4 linked regions of the Homo sapiens genome follow. The protein of the gene in region 2 purifies or fractionates together with the protein of the main gene of each other region. This does not show direct contact. Each region holds a gene or a part of one and is shown on either strand. Other genes may lie near its edges. The genes, in order: FAM118B, MUC20, TRMT44 and FASTKD3.

Region 1 (7,033 bases), on a different chromosome or scaffold from region 2:
GAAAAAGAAAAGGAGATGCCAAACCACAATTAGGGCTGTGTCTCAGTGGCGTTTCCCTACATAAGGCAAGATGAACGGAAAGTGTTGCCTTCTTACCTGGCACCTCATGAGAGGGTAGTTGTCGCTCTGCTTTGTACCCCAGCTTCCCTTTAATACCGACAGTAAATTCATATCCCTTGGCCAGGTTTATTTTCTTCATTCTATAAAAATGCCTATTTTAGGAAGCTTACGTATAGTAGCACTTGCTATCTGCTAAGCATTGTGCTAAGCACTTGGCATGTATCATCTCATCTTCCTTATTACGTTCGTATGAGATAGATAATATTTTATCCCCGGGATTTTTTTTTTTTTTTTTGAGATGGAGTCTCGCTCCGTCGCCCAGGCTGGAGTGCAGTGACGCGATCTCGGCTCACTGCAAGCTCCGCCTCCTGGGTTCACACCATTCTCCTGCCTCAGCCTCCCAAGTAGCTGGGACTACAGGCGCCTGTCACCACGCCCTGCTAATTTTTTTTATTTTTAGTAGAGACGGGGTTTCACCGTGTTAGCCAGGATGGTCTCGATCTCCTGACCTCGTGATCCGCCCGCCTCGGTCTCCCAAAGTGCTGGGATTACAGGCGTGAGCCACTGCGCCTGGCCTTTATCTCTGTTTTGAATTCAAAATATTCTTCCAAAATTTGTTACTGCTGTAACTAAAACAACTGACCTACCAAAGCACTTTGGACTAATTTTCTTTTTTCAAATCCCTCCTCAGCGTACCAGTAATGTTCGATCCACATTTTTCAAGGACTGTTTATATGAAGTATTTGATGACTTGGAGTCAAAGATGGAAGATTCTGGAAAACAGCTACTTCAGTCAGTTCTCCACCTGATGGAAAATGGAGCCCTCGTATTAACTACAAATTTTGATAATCTCTTGGAACTGTATGCAGCAGATCAGGGGAAACAGCTTGAATCCCTTGACCTTACTGATGAGAAAAAGGTAAAAAGTAAAGCATTGGTCCCTTCTTCAGGCTAGTGGATTTTATCTTCCTCAGAAAAGCTCTTTTCTAGTTGGTATATTGGTATTTATGTAGAGCTAGAAAGGAAAAATTTTTTCCCTGGTTGGAGTTTTTGTTTTTCTTTTTTCTTTCTTTTTAAAGATCAAATCAATATACAGTAAAATGCATAGAACTTAAAAGTGTTCAGTTCTATGACTCTTGACAATTTCATCCAGTTTTAAAGCAAGATTAGAGGAAGTCACTTGAACTGTAAGATCTCTTTAGCACTTGACAGTATTCAGTGGTGTAATATTGATAATGCTGGTTCTATTTTAGGATACCTTTTTTTATGGCATCTATTGGAAATGTATGAAAACTACTTTATACTGATTGGAAGAACAACTTCCAGGCCAAGCGATGGCTGAATTGAGGTTAATGTTTAGTGGAAACCTCAGCAGACTTTGTTTTAGCATAGTCTATACTGTACCTACCATAATTATTGAATTATAGATGTTGATCTGTGTCAGCTAATGAGATGAGTTCTTAAAGTCTCATTGGTCCTACTCTGTGATTTTTGTAATGTTTTTTCCTACACTTTGTTTTCCTCAGGAATCTGCCTTTATGTCCAATTTAGAGCCCAACTAAGTAGAGTTGAATAGACAAGTGATTTGCCTGCTGGCATTCAGTACTACAGTATTGCCCCTGCCAGAGTGGTAGCTGAAATACCACTCTTGTGGTTTTGCTGACCTTGATGGCAGGATTTAAAGGGAATTGAATTTAGAGAAAAGCTGCCCCATGAAGACTAGTTTTCTCTGGTCCAAGTGTCTTCCGCCTACGCCCTCATATTCTGTATGGTCAGCTCCTTCTTCATTTATAACTCTCAACCTAGGGATCCCCTCCTGAGAGACCTTCTCTGACCATCCTATTTAAATTGGATACTTATTTTTTTTATCCAGTCTCTTGTCCGTTTCCTTTGTAGCACTTAGTATTAACTTGCAGCTTTTTTTTTTTTTTTTTGAGAGACAGTTTCGCTCTTGTTGCCCTGGGTTCAAGTGATTCTCCTGCCTCACCCTCCTGAGTAGCTGGGATTACAGGCATGTGCCACAACGCCCGGCTAATTTTGTATTTTTGGTAGAGACGGGGTTTCTCCATGTTGGTCAGGCTAGTCTCAAACTCCTGACCTCAGGTGATCTGCTAACCTCAGCCTCCCAAAGTACTGGGATTACAGGCATGTGCCTGGCCGTTTTGTTTTGTTTTGTTTTGTTTTGTTTTGAGATGGAGTTTTGCTCTTGTCGCCCAGGCTGAAGTGCAATGGCATGATCTCAGCTCACTGCAACCTCCTCCTCCTGGGTTCAAGCGATTCTCCTGCCTCAGCGTCCCGAATAGCTGGGATTACAGGCACCCGCCATCACGTCTGGCTAATTTTTGTATTTTCAGTAGAGACAGGGTTTCACCATGTTGGCCAGGCTGGTCTCGAACTCCTGACCTCAGGTGATCTGCCCACCTTAGCCTCCCAAAGTGCTGGGATTACAGGCATGAGCCACCACACCCAGCACAGTTTTTATCTTGGCTGTTTATCTGTTTTCTGACTGTTTACCCCATAGGAATAGTAACTTCACTTGGATAGGTATCATGTTAGTCTTTCTTACCCTCATAACTCAAATACAACCCTCATGTCTCAAATATGACAGTTAGGTGCTTGGTAAATATTTTTTTGATTAATAAATGATTGGGCTGGGCACAGCAGCTCAGGCCTGTAACCCCAGCACTTTGGGAAGCTGAGGCGGGAGGATCACTTGAGCCTAGTTCAAGACCAACCTGGGCATCATAGCAAGACCCCATCTCTACAAAAAGTTTAAAAATTAGCCGGGCATGGTGGTGTTTGCCTGTGGTCCCAGCTACTTGGGAGGCTGAAGCAGGACGATCGATTGAGCTGAGGCAGTCGAGGCTACAGTGAGTTGTGATCACACTGTTGCACTCCAGCCTGGGTGACAGCATAAGATCATGTCTCTAAATAAATAGGCTGGGCACAGTGGTTCACGTCTGTAATCCCAGCATTTTGGGTGGCCGAGGTGGGTGGATCACTTGAGGTCAGGATTTTGAGACCAGCCTGTCCAACATGGTGAAACCCCGTCTTTACTAAGAATACAAAAACTAGCTGGGAGTGGTGGTGCACGCCTGTAATCCCAGTTACTTGGGAGGCTGAGGCAGGAGAATCATTTGAACCCAGGAGGCAGAGGTTTCAGTGAGCCAAGATTGCGCCACTGTGCTCCAATCTGGGCAACAGACCAAGACTCTGTCTAAAAACAAACAAACAAATGATTGAAATTTTAAAACTAGCAGCTTCTATGCTATTTGTGATAAAATTTCCAAAGATTATGACCAAGTGTGTTCATGGATATCAGAAGCATAAGGACCTTTTAAAAGCTGAGGATATCTATCACATTTGATGTTTTCCTTCTCATTTCATCCTTGGGCCTCAAGATTTGCATTGTATTTTCAGCCCACATTAGGGGCAGTGTTGCAGTCTAATGGTTAAAGACATTGACTGGTAGTCAGAATGGGGCCTAGTAACATTCAAATTCTAAATCTCGGTGCCTCTTGACTACTTTCCTGATTCATAGCCTATTTCTCCAAAATGTGATAAGAATAAATGTATGCTGTCTCCAGTCCTTGGGAAAATGGAGCCATGGAATCAGGTGGCTATTGCATTCGCTGTTGTCTAAATGATTGTTCTTCGCTGGCAGCCTTTTAGGTTCCTCAGAGGTGACTGAAGTGATTTTTCTATCACTTATCTATTGCTGTACAAGTAATGGCCGTGAAACTTTGTGGCTTGTAACAACAAATATCTTATCTGCCCATGATAAAGTATATTAACAATTTGAACTGGGCTCAGTGACTCAGCCAGGCATTTTTTCTGCTGATTTTTGCACCCTCTTCACATACCTGCAGACATCTGATGGCCGCACCAGGGCTGAGTGATATAAGGGGACCATACTTCCCTGCAAGCAATTGGCCAGGCCATATATGTCCCAGCAGGCTAGCCCAGGCTTCTTCACTTTCTTCGCATGGCAGCTGGATTCCAAAAGTAACACAAGAGAAGTAAGACTTCTTGTGCCAACACTTTTCAAGCTTCTGCTTGTGTGTGTTTGCTAGTATCCCATTGGCTAAAAGCAAGCCATGTGGTTAGCCTGGAGTCACTCCGAAGAGGGGCCACACAAGGGCCTGGATACAGAGGCTTGATTTCTTGGGGCGATCACTGAAGCAGTTGTCCATAGCTCTCATGCATGCCACCAGTGCAAAGGGTCCCTGTTGTTTCTGCAAATTATGACAAATTGTGATTTTTGATGCTTACTTTCAAAGAGAAATCACCAAATTTGTTGCCATCATTCTTGACAGTCATTCCTGAAGTGGAAACTTAGACCACATCAGGTTTTGCATTCTTGTCCTATATCATGAAGCTAGAGAGTTTATGTCAGAAGTCTAGTCCTCAAAACAGCCTCTTGCCCATTGTGACCTTTAAACAGGTGCTCAGCCCTGCCAAGCTGGTTGGGCTATATGTGTGTTGTGCAGGTCCTCGAGTGGGCTCAGGAGAAGCGTAAGCTGAGCGTGTTGCATATTCACGGAGTCTACACCAACCCTAGTGGCATTGTCCTTCATCCGGCTGGATATCAGAACGTGCTCAGGAACACTGAAGTCATGGTGAGTGGGGCTGATCTTGCTGGTCTCAGGAACTCCTTCCTGGGAAATCTCTCTAAATATGCCATAGATCTTAAAGGGGAACATCTTCTTTTCATTAAGTGAAAACGGAAGGTCAGGGGCTAGGAGCAGTGGCTCATGCCTATAATCCCAACACTTTGGGAGGCCAAGGGGAGAGGATCACCTGAGGCCAGGAGTTCGAGACCAGCCTGGGCAACATAGCGAGACTCTTGTCTTTACAAAAATAAAATTAGCTAGGCATCATGGTGCATGCTGTCCCAGCTACTTGGGAGGCTGAGGCAGGAAGATTAGTTGAGACTAGGAATATAAGGCTGTAGTGAGCTGTGTCTAGAGCCACTGCACTCCAGCTTGGGTGACAGAGCAAGGCCCTATCTCTAAAAAAAGAAAGAAACTGGAAAGTCAGACGTTCTTCCTGTGCTTCTTAACTTATGGGTGTGCATGCTGTCTAGGAAATGTAGAATTTCTCTTAAGGTGTCAAACCCTATGATCTTTGTTTGTACTTAATTGACAACCAGCAGATGGCATGTCATCATTGGCATCATCTTCACATACAAAGGATACATTAGTACCCTTTATCATCATTTGGTTTATTAATAGCCCTCTCTGTGTCAGAAATAATTGAGGCAGCTTCTTAACAAACCAACCACTACTAGAGAATACATTCTAAAGAGACTTTGTATAAATGGCAATGGGCTTATATTGAATTAACCACATTTATTCACACTTACTCTTTGTGAAAAGCTTATTGATCTTTTGGGATGCACATTTTCGACTTGTTCAGATAAACATGTTCAAACCAGAAGTATTCGCTGCCCCCAGCTCTAAGAATCTTGTTTGCTGTTTTCAGGACTGGGTCATATAGATTATAGCATCTTTTAATAATGAGGCAAAAGACCGAGAAAATGTATTGTCTAAAGCACAAGGGACTTTTTTTTCTTTTTACCCATTCTTTCCCAACATCTGCCATAACTGCATCCATCTCTGACATTGAGTGATCCCTTAGGCAGTCATTTCTGTGTTTTTGTGTGTGTATATGTATACACACACACACACATACTGATGTTCTAAGTATCAAACGCCTTTCCTTGAGCAAATCCGATGATGGAATTATCTTCTCTGGTGATTCACAGTTCAGTTTGTGAGACAAAGGCAAATATGGTCCAGAAATGGAAGGATTAAGATATATGAAGACCTACTCTTTGCACAATGACCTCTGGGCACATAAATCTAAAAAAGTACGCCTGTAATCCCAACACTTTGGGAGGCTGAGGCAGGCAGATCACATGAGGTCAGGAGTTCCAGACCAGCCTGGCCAACATGGTGAAACCCTGTCTCTACTAAAAATAGGAAAATTAGCTGGGCGTGCTGGCAGGTGCCTGTAATGCCAGCTACTTGGGAGTCTGAGGCAGGAGAATCGCTTGAACCTGGGAGGCAGAGGAGGTTGCAGTGAGCCAAGACCATGCCACTGCACTCCAGCCTAGGTGGCAGAGCAAGACTCTGTCTCAAAAATAAAATAAAAATAAAAAAGTAAACTACTGGCCAAGTGCAGTGGCTCACGCCTGTAATCCCAGCACTTTGGGAGGCCAAGGTGGGTGGATCACTCGAGGTCGGGAGTACCAGACCAGCCTGGCCAACATGGCAAAACCCCGTCTCTACTAAACATTCAAAAATTAGCTGGGTGTGGTGGTGCACACTTGTAATATACTCGGGAGGCTGAGGCATGAGAGTCACTTGAACCAGGGTGGTGGAGGTTGCAGTAAGCCGAGGTCACACCACTACACTCTAGCCCAGGTGAAAGAGTGAGACTCCGTCTCAAAAAATATATAAAGCATAAAAAATAAAGAAGTAAACTACTGCACCAGTACACTGACACCAGCTCTATGAAACGCTGATTAGAGAGCCTACAGAAGAATGGCAGGTAAAGATAAAATTTTAGACCAATCATCAAGTTACAGCAATAAGCAAGAGATCACACTCCTTGATGGGACATACCAACCCACTTAAGTCTTGCTTAATTGGTCATCACAGTCTGCTCAACGTAGCATGACCTTCTTGTTTCAGACTTGCCTTGAGTGTGTCTTCACAATGTCAATATGTTGTATCTTTTCCTTCCAGAGAGAAATTCAGAAACTCTACGAAAACAAGTCATTTCTTTTCCTGGGCTGTGGCTGGACTGTGGATGACACCACTTTCCAGGCCCTTTTCTTGGAGGCTGTCAAGCATAAATCTGACCTAGAACATTTCATGCTGGTTCGGAGAGGAGACGTAGATGAGTTCAAAAAGCTTCGAGAAAACATGCTGGACAAGGGGATTAAAGTCATCTCCTATGGAGATGA
Region 2 (6,919 bases):
CCGGGAGACCCTGAGGCAACACCTAGCTTTTCAGAGAGCGGCTGCCAGCACTTCTGCCCAGAGCAGAGGCCTGTTCCCTTGACTGGCCCTGAGGTGGGAGGAATGGGAGTCCCCGAGGGAGGCTACGGTAGGATATCTTCCCTAGAGACAGGGTCTTGCTCTGTTGCCCAGGCAGGTCTTGAATTCCTGGGCTCAAGCGATCCTCCTGCCTCAGCCTCTTGAGTAGTTTACTACAAGATCTTTTCTGGCCTGAGAAAGGGGGCCTCCCCTGTCTAGAGGGAGATCGGGCTCTCCCTGTGAGTGGGCCAAGGAGCCTCTTGGAGAGGGTTTCTAGATTTAGCAAATAAAAATACAGGGTACTCGGTTAAATTTGAACTTGCATTTCAGATAAACGACGAATAACTTTTTAGCATGAGTATTTCTCATGCAATATTGGCTACATACTTACACTTAAAAAAAATTGTTACCTGAAATTCAAATGTAACTGGATGCCCTGTGTTTTATCTGGTAATCCCAGTCTTGGAAGGAAAAGGATCAAATACGAACCCCCTAATTCTCTGAGCCTTCTTGGTCCAGCCTACACAGCTGGAAGCCCAAAGGTGGCGCTCTTGGAGTCTGACCTCCCCTGGCACAGGGTTTGAGATGGTCTTTACCCAGCTCCACTGGCCCAAAAGTAGCCCATAGACCCAAAAGGGGCCTAGCACCTCTCCCCAGGGCATCAGGATGGGGCCCCAGGTCCCCAACTGGTTGTCCTGTGGACCTCAGGGAATGACGACGCAGGAGTCAAGAGCCTCGGTTGCAGCTCCCGCTGTGCCGCCCACGACTGGCTCCGGGGTCAGATGATCTGCTGGTTCAAATCCTGACTCAGCCTCCTACTAGCCAGGCCAGTCTCTAGACCCCTCCCAGCCTCCATGTCCTCACCTGAGAAAACAGGGTCACAATACCTGCCTTGCCAACGTGATGAGGACCAGCGGAGAAGGTGAAAGGGCTTATATTCCAAAGCCCACAAGGTAAGCATCCCTCCCTATGGAGTCCTCTCCCAGGCCACTGGAAAGCACGCATAGTTGATCTGACTATAGTGAGGAGTGCGGGCTGCACCCCCAGGCAGTATAGGCGAGTCCCGGGCACCCACTCTCATCCCTGGTCCAGTGCGGCCCAGCTGCACACACAAATCTCACTTTTGCAGGAACTGTTCGTCTGCCTTCATAATACAGTTTCTTCTCCCCACTTCAAGCCTGAGATCATTTCTTTGAGCCTTCTTGGTCCAGCCCACACAGCTGGAAGCCCAGAGTGGTGCCCTTGGAGCCCGACTTCCCCTGGCACATTTTCTGGCTTATCCAGGAGCCCCGGGGTGTCCTTTCTGCTGTGAAACCTCCTCATGCTCCCCAAGCCCACAGCCTCTCGGGTCCAAGGGGGTCTTCTCGAATACAGCAAATCCCAGCCCAGCCCCTCAGTAGCTCTGGAACACTGCGGCTCTCCTGGTACAATCTTCAAATCTGGTGGAGAGGAAAGCGTGTGGACTTGGGACCCTGAGTTGGAGAATCTGCTCTCTGCCCTGTGACCCTGGCCAAGTCTCTCAGCTCCAAGCCTGCATTTCCGCACCTGTAAGGTGGAGCTAACGGGACACGTGCAGCGCAGACCAGGCCACGGTGAGCACAGGCAGGAGGCCACGGGGTGCAGTGCTCAGGCCTGTGAGGAGTCAGATTCTGGCTCCGAGGAGTTGTTACTGGATGCCCAGAAGCACAGTGGCCTCACCCTTAAAGCAGTGGAGGTGGGGGGTGGTAAAAACAGGGCCGATCTTGCAGGGCCGTTGTGAGGATTAAAAATACAATGTATGATAATGATGCATCAAAGTAGGTTCCTCAGTCCTATCAAATGTGCCACTCTGGTGGGGGACGCTGATGATGGGGGAGGCTGTGAGTGGTGGGGATGGGAACTCCAGACTCTCCACTGCAGCTTTTTTTTTTTTGAAACATAGTTTCACTTTTGTTGCCCAGGCCAGAGCGCAAGGGTGCGATCTCAGCTCACTGCAAACTCCACCTCCCAGGTTCAAGCAATTCTCCTGCCTCAGCCTCCCGAGTAGCTGGGATTACAGGCACCTGCTACCACCCCCGGCTAATTTTGTATTTTTAGTAGAGACGGGGTTTCTCCATGTTGGTCAGGCTGGTCTCGAACTCCTGACCTCAGGTGATCCACCCACCTCAGCCTCCCAAAATGCTGGGATTACAGGTGTGAGCCACCACGCCCGGCCTCTCCACTCGAGGTTTAGAGGGAGCATAGAACTAAAAAAAAAATAAATCCTTTTCTATTTTTTAATGTATGTGATGAGTTTGGCACAACTCCTATTAGCGACAGGTCAGGGTTCATTCCCGTCTTTCACAAAAGCCCTGCCTGTCAGCATCCACCCTTCCCAAGCAGTTTGTGGCAGTTGGACTTTTCACACGAAATCTGTATTTTGAAGGAAATCCATGCTAGGTAATAAACTGGGAGGAGTCAGAATCTTGTTAAGCCACATTCTTCAGCTTTCTGCACAATGATCACCAGCTGGCACCTCCCTGCACCCCCGCTCCGTGCCCCACTTACTGTCCCACGTTCATAAAGACAAACTCTCAGCCATCCCTTACGATGGCAGCGTCATGGTTGATTAGCGTGTACTGCAGCGCCAGGCACGCTTACACTCACACACATCGTCATGGTTGATTAGTGTGTACTGCAGCGCCATGCACGCTTACACTCACACTGTCATTTGCACACTCTTTATCAACAATAATAGCACTTCACAAGTAGCACTGTGGTTCATTATAATCAACCCGAGAGAGCCTGCCCTTGCCCATGAAGGGTGGCTCATACTGAAATTCACTCCCAGAGCCCTACTAGGGGAGAGGCCCACCAGGCCCTTCTAGGCCTCCTTACCTGCAGAGCTCCCAGAGACCCCAACCTCCCAGCAGAAGAAGAAAAGGGGCAGAGCCAGACCCCAGAGACAGCCCATCCTAGCCGGCCACCGCTGCTCCACAGAACTGCTGGCTGTCTCTCGCGGGTACCTTTTCCTGCTTCCTCAAACCAGGGAGGAGGGGCAGCCTCCTGCCCAGGTGTGTGACCAGGTGATCACAAATGTGCAGGCTGAGGGCTGGCAGGTTGAGGCTGTCAGCAAGCTGACCCCCCTGCCTTCCTTGCCCGGTAAACACTCCACTGAAATTTGATTTGAAGATATGGAATCACTAGCTTCTTTTTTTTTTTTTGAGATGGAGTCTTGCTCTGTCACCCAGGCTGGAGTGTACAGTAATGAGATCTCAGCTCAATGAAACCTCTTCCTCCCGGGATCCAACAATTCTCCTGCCTCAGCCTCTGGAGTAGCTGGGATTATAGGCGCGCACCACCACGTCGGGCTAATTTTTGTATTTTTAGTAGAGATGGGGTTTCACCATGTTGGCCAGGCTAGTCTCAAACTCCTGACCTCAGGTGATCTACCTACCTCAGCCTCCCAAAGTGCTGGGAGTACAGGCATGAGCCACTGCACCCAGCCAAGTGCTTTTATTTTCTTAAGCCAATTAATTAGAGCTCTTTTATATATTTTCAGTAGCAAAACACTGTGTACACAACAACACATAAATACACAGATGTATTAGGTATGCTGAAAGAAGTTCATCTTATAGATTCATAAAGAGCTTTTTTCTTACACCTTCAAATTCTTTTTTACTTTTTTTTTTTTTTTTTTTGAGACAGAGTCTCACTCTGTTGCCCAGGCTGGAGTGCAATGGCTTGATCTCGACTCACTGCAAACTCTGCCTCCTGGCTTCAAGTGATTCTCCTGCCTCAGCTTCCTGAGTAGCTGGGATTATAGGCACCTGCCACCACATCTGGCTAATTTTTTTTGTATTTTTAGTAGAGACGGGGTTTCAACATGTTGGCCAAGATGGTTTTGAACTCCTGACCTCAAGAGATCTTTGCGGCTCAGCCTCCCAAATGCTAGGATTACAGACGTGAGCCACCGTGCCCAGCCACACCTTCGAATTCTTGATAACCTGTTTTACTACTCTAAGCGGTTGTCAGCTAAATAGCCTTGAATTTGCATTTTAAGGAAACTGAGGTGAAAATCGAATAGCAAAATTTACATCATAACGTATGGAGAGAAAAAGTCTGGTGTGCTGGAGGGAAATTAAAACAGATTTAATTGCCAATTAAACATAAAATTATAGAAATTATAAAGGCCTTTTAAATATATACACACACACAAAGATCCTATAGCTTTTACTTCAGAAATTTAGCCATGAAAGCTGGGCGCGGTGACTCACGCCTGTAATCCCAGCACCTTGGGAGGCCGAGGCGGGCAGATCACCTGAGGTCAGGAGTTGGAGACCAGCCTGACGAACATGGAGAAACCCCATCTCTACTAAAAATACAAAAAATTAGCCAGGCATGGTGGTGCATGCCTGTAATCCCAGCTACTCGGGAGGCTGAGGCAAGAGAATCACTTGAACCAGGGAAGAGGAGACTGTGGTGACCCAAGATCACGCCATTGCACTCCAGCCTGGGCAACAAGAGTGAAACTCTGCCTCAAAAAAAAAAAAAGAAAAAAAAAAAAGAGAAAGAAAAGAAAAAAAGAAATTTAGCCATGAAATAAATACAAATTCACCAGTTTACAAACAGAAAAACTATCTGATCCAAACAGTGTTTTTTATCTTAATAGAAAAATAACAGCAAATTTAAAGCAGGCAGAGAAGAAACTAGAGAAAAAAGAGGACTCAGGAACTCTACAGTTTGCAGGTCAACCTCAGGGCTCCTTTTTTTTTAATGTAAATGTGCAGAAAGACCATATTACTTCCACTTTACATAAACTCTGGCAAGTAGAGGCGCCATGAACCCTATGGAGTACTCGGCTGGGAGGAGCAAACGCCCTTTCTCTTTGGAGCTGAGAAAACTCAATCTCTCATTTACCTATGACAACAACAGTTCAGTTCCTCATGCAAATACATAGACAACCCAAACTGAGATTCATTTTGGGAGAAAAAGCAATAGAGAAGACCCTTTAGGATGCATCTCTGAACTAGAATTAGGATCCTTAAATCACAGCTTCCTAGAAGAGAAAAAAAAAAAAACAAAAAAACAGCCAAGACCATTCCCTGTAAACTGTGCTCAGCCACCCCTTCTTTGTAGTTCTCGTCTGCCATTACACACGCCAAGGTCAAATCCTCTCACAGTGCAGGGTCATCTCTGGTTCCCCCAAAGCCAAAGAGGTCAGGTCATGCCGTACAGGAAGACAGCAGAGCTTTAGACCTAAGAAGAATCCGCCCATCACTCTTGAAACTCCACAAAGAAAACAGAGCACCCTGGAAGGGGTGAGTGGCCCCTTTGTTCCGGATCCTTTAAAGGGGCTCGAGTCATTGGAAGCCTTCTCTAGATTTTTTTGGTCCCGCAGATGGCAAAGGCAGGAGGAGGTATAGGGAGGAAGAAAAGTAAGTGAAAGAGCATTTGTTGTTTTTGTTTGTTTGTTTTTTAAGACAGAAAGCAAACACAGAAACCAAGCACGTGATTTGTTGTTTTCGTTTAGTTTTTTCCTCTTTTGCAGCTGCAAGGAATTTTAGCCAAATTAGAGAGGCTTTGTTACCCATAATTTGGAATTCTCACTTGGATTTGACCAAGTCAGGTAGAGTTGGTCAAATCTGATGAGAGAAAGACCAGAAAAAACAACAACAACAAAAGTCAAATGATATGACCACAGACTGCTCTAATGGGAAGAAGAAATTCAGACCAGCTGGTTGTTAACCTTCAGCCAAGACAAAACCTCAGTTCAGCTACTTACCTAGGGATGGGTCTCAGGCTGAAGACTGCTCTCTACCATCCTTGAAGCAGGAAAAAAACTCGAACTTGTCTTCCCTGCTGGGAGCAAGCTCAAACTCCATAAAAGAGTTGTCAGCCTTCCATCATCACGGACCCAGGAAATCTTGCCTTCCTTCTTGGAAGCAAATAAAACTCCAAAAGAAGGAGAGGGGGAGTTGTACATCAAATAAACTTTAGATCACGACCAAGTTTTGAGAGATCAGGGACTCTATGGAGGGGGTGCTCCCAGACCTCAGCAAATTGTCCTGTTGGTTTGAGCCATAAGGTTAGCTCATGGTGCTACCAAGCACCAATAGATCTGTCAAAGGTCAGGGGTACCTCAACTCAGAATCCCTCCATGGTTACCAAAATGTGAACCCCCCAAATCTGAGACAGGTCTCAGTTAATTTAGAAAGTTTATTGTTCCAAGGTTGAAGATGCACACCCGTGACACAGCCTCAGGATGTCCTGACGACATGTGCCAAGGTGGTCATACGTTTTAGGGAGACATGAGACATCAATCAACACATGTAAGATGAACATTGGTTCAGTCTGGAAAAGGCCGGGCAACGCCAAGCAAATGTGGGACAACTCGCAGCCAGGAGAAAGCTTCCAGGTCACAGGTGGGTGAGAGACAAAGGTCGCATTCTTTTGAGTTTCTGATGGGCCTTTCCAAAGAAGGCAATCAGATATGCATCTATCTCAGTGAGCAGGGGGTGATTTTGAATAGAATGGGGGGCAGGTCGGCCCTAAGCCATTCCCGGCTTGACTTTCCCCTTTAGCTTAGTGATTTTGGGGGCCCAAGATTTATTTTCCTTTCACAAAACAATAAACATAACAAATAAGTGAATTATAGAAAGGTGAAAACTATGGAAAAAAAAGAAAAACAGAGAGAAAGAATCCTGAACACTGACGTGGGGAGGGCAGGTGCCAGCTGCAGTACTAAATACTGGTGTGGGGAGGGCAGGTGCCAGCTGCAGTACTAAATACTGGTGTGGGGAGGGCAGGTGCCAGCTGCAGTACTAAATACTGCTGTGTGGAGGGCAGGTGCCAGCTGCAGTACTAAATAGCAGAGGGGAGGGCAGGTGCCAGCTGCAGTACC
Region 3 (6,921 bases), on a different chromosome or scaffold from region 2:
GTGGCGGGTAGCTGTAGTCCCAGCTACTCGGGAGGCTGAGGCAGGAGAATTGTGTGAACCTGGGAGGTGGAGTTTGCAGTGAGCCGAGATCACACCACTGCACTCCAGCCTTGGCAACAGAGCGAGACTCCATCTCAAAAAAAAAAAAAAAATCAGCATATATATATATTCGAAAAAATATATATAAATATATATATACAAATATATGTAAATATATAGAAATATATACACGTAAATATATATATTTACATATATATGTAAAAAAATATATGTAAATATATATATAAATATATATATAGTGAATACTTCGTTTGTAAAGCAAGCCCAGGGTAACATCAAGCAGAAGCTACAGGCATGAATATCACCCAGTCTATAAAAGTGGCCACCAAGGCGTATGTTAGCTGTGACCAAGGAACAAAACAGGAAAGAGCAAAAGCAACAAGTGCGGCAGCTAGGCACGCCAAGGGTTAAATTCCTCTCCCCGGCTCAGCTCTATCTAGAAAAAAAGAGGAGGCTAGAGACCGGTGCCAAGAGAAGAGCAAAACAAAAAGAAAGACTCACAGTAAGTGTAAAAAAGAGAATCAGAAGAAAATGGGAGAGACAGCAGTGCGCGGGGGCAGGGCCTGTGCCACTGCCTGGCCCCGCCAGGTGGCCATAGAAGCAGGAGAACTCAGGAAGGAAAAAGAAAAACAAAGACTTAAGGAAAAAGGCCAATCTGTTAGCAACAGCTCTTATAAAAAGAGAGATTAGCAATGCGAGAGGACGTGGACACGGATGTAGACGTGGAAGAAGTCAAGTTAGGCAAGGATTCGAGAGCCGGCCAAGGCTAGAGAGACATTAATGTGTGAGATGAAAAAAGAAAGGACACTAGAAGGGTGAATGTTCAGAAGGCAATAAAAGAAATGGCCAAGGCTGCAAGACAAAGAGGCCATTGGCCAAGGGCTGCCGCACCTTGGAGGAACCAAATACTGATCTGATCAGGCTGGCAGGAGCTAAAGAATGTAAAGACTAGGGCAGACTAGGCACCTTCTTATTAGGCTCCCAGGAGCCCATTGTCACATTAGAAGTTAAAAGCAGCAGGATTCTGCCATATCTGGATTCCAATTTCTCACTGATGGCTAAGCCACTAGATAGAGTTACAAAGGGGGGAAAGAAAAAGAACCCCTCCTCTAAGAAACTTAAACAGGAAAAAGAGCCATACCTTGTGAAAACTTGCTTATAGACTTTACAGAACTGCCTCATGCTGGAGGCTATCGGTACATGCTAGTGCTTGTTTGCACCTTTCCAGGGTAAGTTAAAGTTTTCCCCACCAGGACAGAAAAAGTACAAGAAGTGACTAAAGTATTGTTAAAAGACATTATCCCCAGGTTTAGACTGCCTCTAACTTTAAAGTCAGACAATAGGCCAGCATTTGTAGCTGAAATAGGGCAGGATTTAACAAGACTGTTAAAAATAAAATGGAAGTTACACACAGCCTATTGGCTGCAAAGTTCAAGAAAAAGTGGAGTGCATGAACTGGACACTCGAGCAGCTACTGAAAAAAATATTGCCAGGAAATTCATTTAAGATAAAATCAGGCTTTTGCCTATGGTCCTCCTTCAAGTCAGCTGCACCCTCACCAAACAAACTAGGTATTTACCCTATAAGATTTTGTTCGGTCGGCCACCCCCAAATCACAGGTCAAATTAAAGGTGACCTCCAAGAACTAAAGGAATTAACCTTAAGAAAGCAAATGCAGATTTTAGAAATAGCCATACAAAGTGTTTATAATTAAATACATAAAAATGCCTATAAGCCTGACACCCCTTTAAATCTAGTGACTCTGTTTAAGTTAAAAAGTAAAATCTAATTTTTCTAGGACCCATATAGGATGGGCCTTATACTGTAATCTTTTCCACTCCCACTGCTGTTAAAAGTTGCAGGTGTTGTGTCTTAGATCCATCACAGTCAGCTAACACTGGCAGCTCAGGACAAGTAGACCAGCCAGCAGGACACAGATCTTCCTACCCGGCTGATTCGGAGACGAGACCAAGCTGTTGCTGAGGACGACAGCCCTGCTCTGGTCACTCCGGAGGCTGACCAGTCTACACACGGCTGAAGCTTGAAGAAACAACAAGCCCGGCTCTAGTCACGCACTGGCAGCTGAATAGTCTACGCATGGCCGAAGCTTGAGGACTTGTCAAGCAAGTAAACGTAGTTAAAAATCTTAAGACTAATAGTTTTCCTGTAATACTGTTTTCCTATTGTTCTGTCACTGTATTCAATCTTTTTCCCAGGTAAGGACCTCTTTTGTCCTTGCTGGATACAAATATGCTGTATATTGTTTTGTTATTGTTACCCCCCATAACCATGCTAGAAGAAACACCTATATAAGGTGTCCCCATTGTACACATACTACTTAGTCAGGAAACCCAGACCCGTCCAGCCCAGCAACAATTCCGAGTCTTTAAGTCATTCTTTAAACACATAAACCAGAAGTTACAAGAGCCTCCTCCTTTAGCAAAACAAACAAACAACCTATTTGCTCAGCTGGCTGAAAACATTGCCAGCAGCCTAGACGTTTCTTCATGTTATGTTTATAAAAAGGCTAACATGAGAGACCAATGGCCTTGAGAAGCAAAAGATTTAATGCCTCAAGATTACTTTAACTCTTTCCCCAAGCAGATGCCAAGTTCAAGCATTTGGCTCTTAAAAACTCCTATTATTAAGAAATACTGTGTTGCTTGCTAGGAAAAAAGCTTTTAAGACCCAGTAAAAAAACTAACCTGCTTAGGACATGACAAAGTTGGCACATGTGCCTGTACTGGTTTAACACAGGTTTGATCCTAGGTCTTTATTTAAAAGATAGTTTCCAGCTATAAGAGAATTTAAAACCCTCACTGCAAGTGTATTACATAAAACACTATCACTCTGTCTCCCAAAGAGACTCAAAGTAAAAATAAAAGCGAGAACTCCCACTAATTTGTGAAAATTCTCAAAGGAAGGGATAAGGAGACCACTACTACTCCTGCTGCCCTCCTCCCTGCCACCTTGCCTAGTTCATAAGACAGGAGGAAAAGAGAGAAAGCAAAAAGTTAGAAAGAAACAAAAGTCAGATAAATAGCCAGACAACCTTGGCACCACCACGTGGCCCTAGGAGTTAAAAAAAATAATAATAATAACATCAACCCCCGACCTAAACTACTTGTGTTATCTGTAAATTCCAGACATTGTATGAAAAAAGCATTGCAAAACTTTCTGTTCTGTTAGCTGATTCATGTAGCCCCCAGTCACGTTTCCCATGCTTGCTCAATTTATCACGACCCTTTCACGTGGACCCTTAAAGTCGTAAGCCTTTAAACAGGCCAAGAATTTCTTTTTTGGGGAGCTCAGCTCTTAAGACGCAAGTCTGCCGATGCTCCCGGCCGAATAAACCTCTTTCTTCTTTAATCCGGTGTCTGAGGAGTTTTGTCTGTGGCTTGTCCTGCTACAGTAGGTGACAGATGACTTTCATCCCTCATGGGACAACGTTACATCATTCTTATGAAACAGCCATGGCTGCACTCAGACTTAGGAAGGCACTGGCTGTAATGCCAGCACTAAAAGCAAACCAGAACCCAAGTGGAGAAAAGTTAGCTTTCATAAGAGGACTCATCTTTTACGTTCACAAACTTAGGCTCCCTGACTTTTATCGGTAATCAGTACTGAGGACAATGCGTTCCACACCCGCTGGCTGGCTGATGTTTGATTCTGTAACTATACCACGCCCAGAATTCTCTCAAAAGGGAATAAAACACAGGTCAAATTCCTCACCCACACACTCCACAGTTCAACCCCTGCCAGGGAAACCAAAAGCAGGAAAGGATCTCCAGCGGCGCCATTCTCATTTCCGGTCCCAGCACCCCGCCTCCATGACGTCAACGCGCCGCGCCACCGGGCTGCGTCATCTCGGCGCGCCGCTGCCAGGGCTGTACACCTGCTGGCTGCCATGGCTGAGGTGGGCCGTACCGGGATCAGCTACCCAGGCGCGCTTCTCCCACAGGGCTTCTGGGCTGCGGTCGAAGTGTGGCTGGAGAGGCCGCAGGTGGCAAACAAACGGCTTTGCGGCGCCCGCCTGGAGGCCCGCTGGAGCGCCGCCCTGCCCTGCGCGGAGGCCCGCGGCCCCGGGACTAGCGCAGGCTCGGAGCAGAAGGAGCGGGGTCCGGGACCCGGCCAGGGTTCCCCCGGAGGGGGCCCGGGTCCCAGGTCGCTATCAGGACCCGAGCAGGGCACGGCATGTTGCGAACTTGAGGAGGCCCAGGGCCAGTGCCAGCAAGAGGAGGCACAGAGGGAAGCCGCCTCAGTGCCCCTGAGGGACTCCGGGCACCCCGGCCATGCTGAAGGAAGGGAGGGCGACTTCCCCGCCGCAGATCTGGATTCGCTTTGGGAGGATTTCTCCCAAAGTCTCGCCCGTGGCAATTCGGAGTTGCTGGCCTTCCTCACCAGCTCCGGGGCGGGATCGCAGCCAGAGGCGCAGCGTGAGCTCGACGTGGTTCTCAGAACCGTCATCCCGAAAACTAGCCCACATTGCCCCCTTACAACTCCCAGGAGGGAAATAGTCGTGCAAGGTAAGAGTGTTTTGATAGTGGACGGATATGATTAGATAAAAAAGCATTCATAGAACCTCGGGTCAATGAAAAAGTCCTAAGGGTACTAGTTCCTCTGCGATGTCCTAGGGAGGTTGTTAGGTGTTTCATAGTTTTTTGAGTGGGCGCATAGAAATGTGTGTCCTTAGTACAGAAGATGGGATAATTGATTGGGGTGGTGTCTGGAAGGCTTCAAAGAGACAGTGAAGGACTAGCTGGATATTGCGTAATACCTAGGAGTTTAGCAGGTAAAGCTGTAGGTGTAAAAGTGTTGGGGACCAGCCTCAACACCACCCGTAGGGTACTCAAAGTCCGGTGGCGACGAAGGAATGAGACGAGACAGGTTAAGAGTGCATAAAGATTGGGGGCCAGGGGGCCAATTGCAAAATGGAGGCTGCCAAAGCCTGGGAGCTCTGGTCTCCACACTATTGAGTACAATCACTTAGATCTAAGAAGCGGACGTTCGGGGCGAAAGGGTGAAAGGGAGACAGTGCATCATACATGTCATCTATAGCAGTGGCGGTTTAAATGAATCTCCTTTGTGCTCAAACAGCGTTATCTTTAACTTGTCGGAGAATAACCAGTGGGAGCGTGCTTAACTAGGAGCCTGCATGTCTGACCACATTGTAGTGATTCAAAGGAGTGTCTTTCTCCTTGAACACAGTGTTTATAGGTAAGACAGTAGGTCTCGCCCAGAGCATGGGAACATCATGACAATAAGAAGGCTTTCCTCCTCAGAGGCCTCTTGTGGCTTTCCACAACTTATTGTCTCATATTTTTATGGCCAGTTTATACAGGCATGCCATAAGCCTTTTCCCCAACATAAAGAGAGCTATTTATGCTGAGACAAATAACTGTGAAAGAGCATAGAGACTGGATGGATGGGAACCTACTAGTCCTCAGCGTTCGTTAAATCTCTGGCATTTATTTTTACTGCCCGTGACCTTGACACTTCAGCCTCAGCCACTCTTACCTGAAACTTTATTCAGCAGCATGTGTTTCGTATTGCCACTGTAACAAATTACTGCAAATTCATTGGTCAGTACAAAAAATTGATTGTCTCAGTTCTGTAGGTTAGGAATCCCCATTGGCTCTGCTGGTTTCTCCGCTGTGGGTCTCTCTCACGAGGCCAAAATCAAACAGCCTGCCGGCTGGGCTCTTATTTGGAGGTTCTGGGAAGGAATCTGTTCTCAGGCTCATTCAGTTCGTTGGTAGAATCCAATTTTTTATGTAGGACTGGGGTCCTTGTTCCCTTGCTGGCTGTCAGTTGCTGGAGGCTTCTTTCTGGTTCTTTCATGCAGCTTCCTACATCTCAGAGCCAGCAATGGGGTTGAATTCTTCTCATACTTGGAATCTCTCTGCCTTCCTCTCCTGCTGCTTCTCTCCTCCGCCTCCAGCCAGAGAAAATTCTCTGCTCTTCGTGGCCCATGGAGTTAGGCCGGGCTCACCTGGATAATCCAGAGTACTCTTCCTCTTGAGGTCTGTAACCATAATCATGTTTGCAAGTGCCCCTTTTGCCATATAATACAGTATATTCACGAGTCCTGGGTATTACGGCATGGACACTTTTGGGAGGCTCTTCTGCCTACCTCAGGCAGCAATTGCTGGGAGGTACATAGTCCCCTCTGATGGCTCCCAATACTGTCTGCCTCTGTGCCTTTGTAAGACTCTAGGTGTCCTCTCCTCCAGGGGGCCTCTCTGCCAGTCCAGTCTAGTTTAGGAGTTCTTCCAGCTCTTATCAACTGTGTTCTAATCTTAACCATTTTACGTTGTCCATCCACTGGACTGAGGATTGGAGAGGCAGTGCCCGTGAGGCCTTCATGTGTAGACTTCGCTGAACAGAGGGGTAGGACAGAATTTTTTCCTTTCTTCCTCTCAGGGAGGCAGTTTTCCCTCTCAACAAGGAGTACGTTTTCAGGATTGCTTTCTATATTCAGTTCCCGCCAGGAAGGCTCACCAGAGGACTTGTATCCTCCATGGAATATAGACAGCCTGGCTTTGAATTTTGGTCTTGCCAATTACAAGCTGTATGGCTGTGGGCAGGTTATAGAGCCTCTCTGTGCCTCAGTGTCTTCATTTGTAAAATAGGATAATAATAAAATATCTTGGAGTTGCTGGAAGAGTTAAATGGAATTAATACATTGTAAAGTGCTTAGAATAGTTCCTGGCACATGGTAAGTGCCTAATAAATGCTAGCTGCTGTTTGTGTGAAGTGGAGATGCTCTTGCAACTTTTGTATATTTCTTGGCCCTATTCTGGGTAAGATCACGAAGGTCTTAAGAGTAATGTGACTGTTCGAGACCAGCCTGGCCAACAT
Region 4 (7,509 bases), on a different chromosome or scaffold from region 2:
GGTATGTATGAGAGAACATCATGAACATTCAACATCAATTTACACACTCCAGACAGAAGTATTCTATTTTTAAATGACACTATGAAATGAACTTGTTAGAATTAATTATGCCCTCCTCTTGCCACCAATGAAATTGACTTCCAAGAACCCAAGCTCCTAGCTACAGAATACAATTAAAAGAGATAAAATATGTTCACAGAATTAGTGGAAATTTCCTTTAACTATGGAGTTCCGGAAATTTGACATATTTGGGTGGCCTTGAATTAAGATGAATAATACCATCCTCTCAAAAAAAAAAAAAAAGATACAGTTGCTCACTCATCAAAAGTTCTAACATGTTAATGTGGCTATTTCCACTGCCATTACCATATCTCCTAAGAATGCTGCAATTTCTCAGATAAGGCAAAAGTCAGTTTATCTGAGACAGCTTTCTTCCCTCTACATGATTTCCTAGCATGCTTTAACTGTGTTTATGCCAGCATCTGTTAACTTCAGGTCTCATCTTCGGATCACTATGGAAGAAAAACTAAAGGCAACATATTGCCTTTATATGTGACTTGAAACCACTGCCAGTTCAAAGGTTACTTTTTTCCAACTGTCAGAATTTATAACCAACTCACCTTGCAGCCGTTGAAGGAAAAGAGGCTTGAATATTTTTGCCAGAAAGTTGACTGGATGGCATTCATTAAGTGAACATGAATGAAGAAGTTTCAATAATGATTTGGGTGGAAAATAATTGAAATGAGTGAATAGCACGTTTTCCAGCTTTCTAAATAAAGCAGAGGCATTTGGTGGCAAATAATTGAGTTTCCCAAATGGTTCCATTAAGGCAGAAATCTGACGAGGTGAAAATTTTTCTGTTTGGCAAACAAAAGTTTCTGCCACTGCATTGAGGATGGGTTTTGAAAGAATCAGTTCTCTACTGCAGTACTCCATGACCCTGCAGACAACTTCAGGATCCAACGTGAGGCACACCGCAGCTACACGATGCTCTAGGGCTTTTGTAAAAAATGTGTCATGGTGCCCAAAATATATGAACGCCTCCAAGACTCTCCTAAGCTCCTCGTTAGTGAAATGTGGGACATGCCTCACGACATATTTGCCCAATTTTATAATCAGAGGAAATGCTTGACTTTGATCAAGAACCACCAGGGCAGTGAGCATTTGGCTAATCAATTTAGGACTCAGGTTGGAAACTATTGATAGGGAAAAGTTGTTTATCTTATTTAAAAATGTTTGGTGTTCATCCACTTTTTCAGTACATGCCTGCAAGATTCTATAAAGGGCCACAATATCCTCCGGGGTAAATGTTTCCAATTTTTCACCTTGAAGTTGATTTATAATGAGTTCTAGTGTCACACAACCTGAACTGTGCAGTGTAATCAGACTTTCCCCAAGAATACAAAGATTGCGAACTTCCATGCCACCTTTTCTGAGACGATTTTGGCATTCTGCCACCAGGTTCAGCAACAGGCTACTTTGAGGATCCACATGCAACAGAATCAGAGCTTGCAAAGCAGTCACTAAACTAGTGTTTGACAGCTGTGAGGGCTCCTTTTCAAACTGAAAGCATAAAGCTTGAAAGATGCTATTCTCCAGTATTTCTTTTGGCAGCCCTTGATCACCATCCTTTTTTTCCACTTCACAAATTCGTTGTAAAGCTCCTGCTGCCATAGTGTCAGGCAGGGTTTCCATCGTGCTTATAAAACTTAGCACTTCTTCTGATGAAGTCAAGTTGCTCAGTCTCCTGTAAAACATCTGACTCTCCTCATTTTTAACATTTTGTTCAAGCCTGTCGCAGTCAGATACTTGAGAGAACACTGGTCCACCGAGTGGATGAAGGTCATTTCCATTTTTCGAATGAAACTTTTTACAATGGGCATGATGGAATTTGACCCCGAAAGGCTCAGGTTGTCGTGAACACAACCAAGGGCACAGACGCTCCTTGACTACCTTGTGAACATGATTTAGAGGTTTATTTTTTAAAGCAGCCAGAGCTCTATGCATCTGAAAATCAGATAAACGATAAAGGTTCTTCCTCAAGGTGATTAATGCCATACCATCAGATTCTCAATTTGATAACTAAATTAAAAAATTTAAAAACACATGGTTAAATACATTGAGAACATGATTGACCCAACATCAATGTTTATGAAACTACAAACGAGTATCTGGAAAAAAAAAAAAAAAAAAAAAAAGGATGGTTAACATATAAACACCAGAGGGGCAAAGTCTCTGCATCCTAGAGTTAGAAGAGTGGCTGACATTGAACAATAACAATCGCTATTACTTGCTAAACACTGTTGTAGGTATTCTATTAACTTACACAGATTCAGTACTTTTACTATCATTTTACACGAGGAAGAAGTTGAAGCACAAAGTTACTTTGCCCAGTTTATGCAGGTGGTTAAGTGGCAGAGCTAGGGTTCAAACTCAGGCAATGTAGCTCTTAAGGGTGGCCCTTAAATGTTGGTTGAAGGAAGAAATTGCATTTGGATAGAAATCAAAGAACAGGTAAAGTGGGCAAAATTAGGCGAGGTTAGAGCAAGGCAAGGGTAAAAACGCGCTGGAAAGGCCCTAAGCTGTTGGTTTCCCCTCGGTGTCGGGAGAAGGTTAGTGTTGAAGGAAAGGGTCTACTTTGTCAATGGAAACAAGGTAGGAAAAGAAAAAGCAAAACATAGATCAATGAAGGGAGAAGGTGGGGCGGCCAGTCCAGATCTAAAGACGGTGCGGGGGGATTTGGCAACACGTGTGTGCAAGACAGACAGACGGGAGGCCCCGCGGCGCGTTTTCCTAGGAATGAAAGGGACCCGCGGGGCGAGCACCCCCAAACTCGGCGCCCCGGGGACCTGCGCTGAGACACGGGCCGGGCGGCGCAGCCTGAGGAGAAAGCCGGCCAGGTCTTTGACACCCAGCCGGACCAACTGCGCGGAGACCCCGCGTTGACACCTACCGCGCTCTGCCGGGCAATCACTCCGGGTGGTCGCGGAAGCGCCTGGGCGTCGTGGGCCTCCGTAGCAAACGCGGGGCGGGAGCACGACTCAGGGCGGCGCAATGTGATTGGCCCAGGTCCCCTTCGGAGCTTTCTATTGGTCCTGGGTACCGAGCATGGGCGCTGCGTCAGTGCGCGCTGGCGCAAGGTTGGTGGAAGTCGCGTTGTGCAGGTTCGTGCCCGGCTGGCGCGGCGTGGGTAAGCTGCCTGTCGGCTACGGTTCCCGGATTCCGGCCGCTCGCCCTGCACTAATCTCCTGGGAGAGGCGGCCCGGGGCGGGGGTGGGCAGCCGGCTTGCGCCCGTGGTTCCCACGCCCTTCGGCCTCCGGGGGTCGCCGCGGGCGCGGGCTGGGGCTCGGACTTGGCCTTTGGCCTTTGGCTTTGGTGTCCCCGGGAGCGTGTCCTTGGGCTCGGCGTCGGCCTCTGCCGCGGGAGGCCCCTGGGCGGCGTGGGGTCTCTCCTCATGTTCTGCCTTTGGTTCTAGGCGCTTTCCAGGCCTAGGGAAACCGCACTCGGGGACGCGGGGAACTGGGGAACATGCCGGGTTGGGGCGGCGCGCTCCGGGGAACCCGGGACGTTCCGAGCGCCCACCCGGCGGGACGCGGCCGTGAGTTCTGCCCGCGGCCGTGAGCTCTGCCCACCGCCTCCGCGCCGCTTCCGGGGCTGCTGGGGCCCGGGCCTCCGCTGAGAGTCGTGGGAAGGTGGTGCCGGATTGTGGGGCAGTAGCAGGGATGAGGGGTTGATTGATCCTGGGAAGCCCTCAGGATGTGTGTTTCATGGGAAGTGATAGAAATTTTAGCTGTAGTAAGGTTTTCATTATCGTTTCCACCGTTTTCTGTGAGCTGTCAATGTGTAGTGTTTTCATATTGTTTATTCACTCATTCAGATAACTTATCGAGTACCAGTTTCATGCCAGGTGCCGTTCTGGGCGGTTCATTCACCGAAAGCCAAGCTTTTGGTTTGGGTTTCAGTTTAAATCTGTCTCTGCAAATTGACAGCCCACCAATTTTAGCCGTTAGATGAGTATGGAAAAAAATCTGTGAGTGTCGTTTGTTTTACTACTGCTTATCTCTTGCGGAAAAACGTGTTAGTAAAATGTTTAAGTGGATTGGAAATATTTTTTCGTTATATGCACCCGTTTGTATATATGCCCATACACTCACATATTTTTGATTTGCATTAAATAATGAAGGAGAGTATGTGCTTCAGTTACCTTTAGTACTATGATTAGTTTGTTTAGCGTTAGGATCAAATAAGAACCAAGAATCCTATCATTTTAATATAGTTTTTACTTTTATCTTTTTTTAAAAAGAGGAAACCAAAAGCTATTTAAGACTGTTGTGAATGATACTGTGGCTCAAGTTTTGTTCAGGTTCTTGGCTTGTGCCACATCGTTTTTCAGGTAGGTGGTAATACTCTCATTTTTAGGATAAAGGAGCTGTGGTACGGATCATTTGGGGAGCTTGTCTACAGGGTTGCACTTAGGAAACACAGATTCAAGCCCAAGTAGTTTCGAGCCGATCATCTGATTTCTGAGCCATGGAATTAGAGTTTCATTCGTACACTCTCCTTAATTTGATGAATTCTTATTTAGGCTCATTTGAGATTAGTGCTGAAAACAAATTTAGAAAAGGCCATTTCATATTATGTGTGGGTATTGTTGCATTGTTTCTTAAAGATTGAGGGAGAATTAATATCTTTAGGTTGTTACTGCTTCATTAAAAAGAGGATCTTTTTTCCCCCATTTTTCAGTTTCACTGTTACATGCCTTGAAGTGATGAGGAGGTTTCTGTTACTATATGCTACACAGCAGGGACAGGCAAAGGCCATCGCAGAAGAAATATGTGAGCAAGCTGTGGTACATGGATTTTCTGCAGATCTTCACTGTATTAGTGAATCCGATAAGGTTAGAGCCGTTACAGTGGATTTTACCGTTTTGTGCTTTGAAGAATTTTGGTTGGGAAGTGATATTTATGAAACAAAAGGACACTAATACCACCACATAGTCTTTGTTTTTTAACAGAAATGTGTTTGTTCAATGGTATAGTAAGATATCACCAGCATTTTTTTAATATAGAAGTGTGTAGTTGAATTAGACTAAATGGTCTCAAAAATTGAAACAAGTAACAACTCCTTAACTGTAAATGACAGAAGTAGCATATGCTGTGTCTGTTTCACAGGGTGGCTGTGAGAACAAGTGAGATGTGTGTTTGCCTGCTCAGGTGTGCTTTCCACCTCTTGAATCTCAGTGTCCCACTTTTTTCCCCAAAAGAAAGGCCTTGCCGTGCGTGTTAGAGTTCCTCCTGATGAAGGACCGCCTAGATTCTTTTGTGAAATAGAATTTAAAGTAGTAGTGTAAGGATCTGGAAAAAACTCGGCTGCTTCTTCAGGGACTAGTTGTTTATGTTCAGTCTCTGCAGAAGTTCCTACCTTAGGGTATATGCAACTTTACCATCTTGTGTTCTTTTATTTAGTTTGCTGCCTCCAGATTATACTATTTCAGACAATTCAGGCGATAACAGTTGGCAGGGGCTTTATACCACAAGATGATTTGCCAGCCGCTAAGCAGTTAAAATTCACTTCAACATTTCAGAGACTGTCCTGCCAGTGCTCTCTCACCCAAGTGCACAACCCTCTCTGGCCTTTCCTAAAACTCCAGTTCAGAACACTAGACTGTGTGCAGCTCAAGTGAATTATAAACCCAGCTCACGGAAGGAGACTCACCTAGTTCCTTTATGCAGCCCTGCCACGGTAACTCTGGACACCAGAGAAAAGGGAGCTTCCTGGAGGAGACTGCCAGTCAGCAGACTCTGTCATTCTACAGTAACTTAAGTTCAGATTGCAGTGCCACATGATGAAGTATCTGAATCTGTTACTTTGGACAAAACCAAAGCCATCAGTATCATAAAACTAGTCCTGATTTGGCCCCTTGTGGTTGACCTCAGTAAGTTGATCAGCAGGTGTTTTGGCAGTCAGATGAATGGTGAATTTTTTTTTTTAACACCAAGATAGTCATGCTATTTATCCTCCCTGGCTGATGGTTTCGTCTAGCTGTTCATAATCTAATATCCTTCCTATTTCACATAGTCCTTTTCAAGGTACTGACATTACTTATACAAACTCTGTATGTAGAGTTTAACACACAACTTACATAGAGTCTTGGAAGCATTAAATACTTCGGTAAAAAGTTAAGTTGTTACCTCTTTTATCAGTGTGAAAAATAAGGTGAATTATTTGGAGCCAAATTCGATGGTGTTCATGGGCAGTAAAGCTTGTGGAGTCTTACAAGTAAGACAAGGAAGTGTTCTATTTGAAATACTTAAATTTACACGAGAGTAAGAATAAAGAAACTTGATTTGTAAGAGTTTATAGCTCAGCTTATAGCTAATGATATTCTCAGAGTTAAGACAGTGAAATGCTCTATATGAAATATTTAAACTTACATGAGAATAAGAATAAACTTGATTTGTAAGAGTTTGTAGCTCGCTTATAGCTAATGATATTCTCAGCTCTCTGGAAACCTGAGGGAATGAGCGGTTCTTGATAGCCAGGTCCCTGATTTAGAAGGGGTAACACTTTTAATTTCCCAGTTTTAAAATGCCCTGTTATCCCTCTGCCTTAGTGTCACATGCAGTACACATGGCTGGTTTTATATTTTGCTGAAGATTTCAGAGCTGTTGTGTTTTTATTGCTGTTTTTCTTTACCACAGTATTCTACTTGTTGCTTCCTTGTCTTGGCATTCTAATCCTGAGTGCTTATGTATCAGTTCTCTTTATTTCTGAGTCTCCCCATCCCCATTTTAACACCTCTTTCCTTGCTTTTTTTTACTTTCTTATGAAAAGACGTTTCCACCCAGTTAGCTGCTGTTCCTCCTTGGCAGCTCATCACAGTGCCTAGGTGCCTCATCTTGGCTCTTAGCAGTGCTGATTTGCCTTGCAGATTTGAGCTCATGTTAATGTTTGGCCCATGACTCAGTGGCAAAGAGTTGACTATATCCTATTTCCTCTGATTTTTCTAAAAATGAAAGACTGGGACTAGATGGAAACCTGGGATGGGTACTGTCTGTGCCTGTCCCTGCCTTTCGTACACAACATGAAGAGAAAGACGTGTTAATCCCCCCCAACCTCTTGATGAGCATCAACAAAACAGACGCATGGTTTCCTTGAATGACATCCTGCATTAGGCAAATTGATTAAGCTGAGAGCGCCTAGTCACTGGACTGGTCGTCTCAAAAAAACTGGCAAGGAAGAAGATTGAAATACAAGACAGGAAACTAAGCTGATTGCTTTGCTGCTGAGTTAAATCAAAAATGCATGTAGTGTTAGGTCCCTGACTTGATATCCTTGTTTTGTAGTATGACCTAAAAACCGAAACAGCTCCTCTTGTTGTTGTGGTTTCTACCACGGGCACCGGAGACCCACCCGACACAGCCCGCAAGTTTGTTAAGGAAATACAGAACCAAACACTGCCGGTTGATTTCTTTGCTCACCTGCGGTATGGGTTACTGGGTAATGGA

What was found.
Region 1: the proteins of MUC20 (region 2) and FAM118B purify together in Homo sapiens (affinity purification with mass spectrometry; 2 studies listed by BioGRID and IntAct, with this or other methods). This does not show direct contact.
Region 3: the proteins of MUC20 (region 2) and TRMT44 purify together in Homo sapiens (affinity purification with mass spectrometry; 2 studies listed by BioGRID and IntAct, with this or other methods). This does not show direct contact.
Region 4: the proteins of MUC20 (region 2) and FASTKD3 purify together in Homo sapiens (affinity purification with mass spectrometry; 2 studies listed by BioGRID and IntAct, with this or other methods). This does not show direct contact.

Annotation. Positions count from the first base shown.
Region 1 is NC_000011.10:126,249,755-126,256,787, forward strand, and holds part of FAM118B (protein FAM118B), read left to right. Parts: intron 1-751; coding exon 752-979; intron 980-4,504; coding exon of another isoform or gene 4,505-4,550; coding exon 4,551-4,679; intron 4,680-5,396; exon of another isoform or gene 5,397-6,812; coding exon 6,813-7,033. UniProt on the Homo sapiens protein: May play a role in Cajal bodies formation.
Region 2 is NC_000003.12:195,717,078-195,723,996, reverse strand, and holds the start of MUC20 (mucin-20 isoform a precursor), read right to left. Parts: upstream 3,020-6,919; 5' UTR 2,990-3,019; coding exon 2,914-2,989; intron 1-2,913. UniProt on the Homo sapiens protein: May regulate MET signaling cascade. Seems to decrease hepatocyte growth factor (HGF)-induced transient MAPK activation. Blocks GRB2 recruitment to MET thus suppressing the GRB2-RAS pathway. Inhibits HGF-induced proliferation of MMP1 and MMP9 expression.
Region 3 is NC_000004.12:8,436,856-8,443,776, forward strand, and holds the start of TRMT44 (probable tRNA (uracil-O(2)-)-methyltransferase), read left to right. Parts: upstream 1-3,921; 5' UTR 3,922-3,967; coding exon 3,968-4,586; intron 4,587-5,905; exon of another isoform or gene 5,906-6,083; intron 6,084-6,921. UniProt on the Homo sapiens protein: Probable adenosyl-L-methionine (AdoMet)-dependent tRNA (uracil-O(2)-)-methyltransferase.
Region 4 is NC_000005.10:7,866,026-7,873,534, forward strand, and holds the start of FASTKD3 (FAST kinase domain-containing protein 3, mitochondrial), read right to left. Parts: upstream 3,007-7,509; 5' UTR 2,954-3,006; intron 2,175-2,953; exon of another isoform or gene 2,172-2,174; 5' UTR 2,059-2,171; coding exon 621-2,058; intron 1-620. Other genes in the region: MTRR (methionine synthase reductase), read left to right, coding at 4,770-4,898, 7,348-7,501. UniProt on the Homo sapiens protein: Required for normal mitochondrial respiration. Increases steady-state levels and half-lives of a subset of mature mitochondrial mRNAs MT-ND2, MT-ND3, MT-CYTB, MT-CO2, and MT-ATP8/6.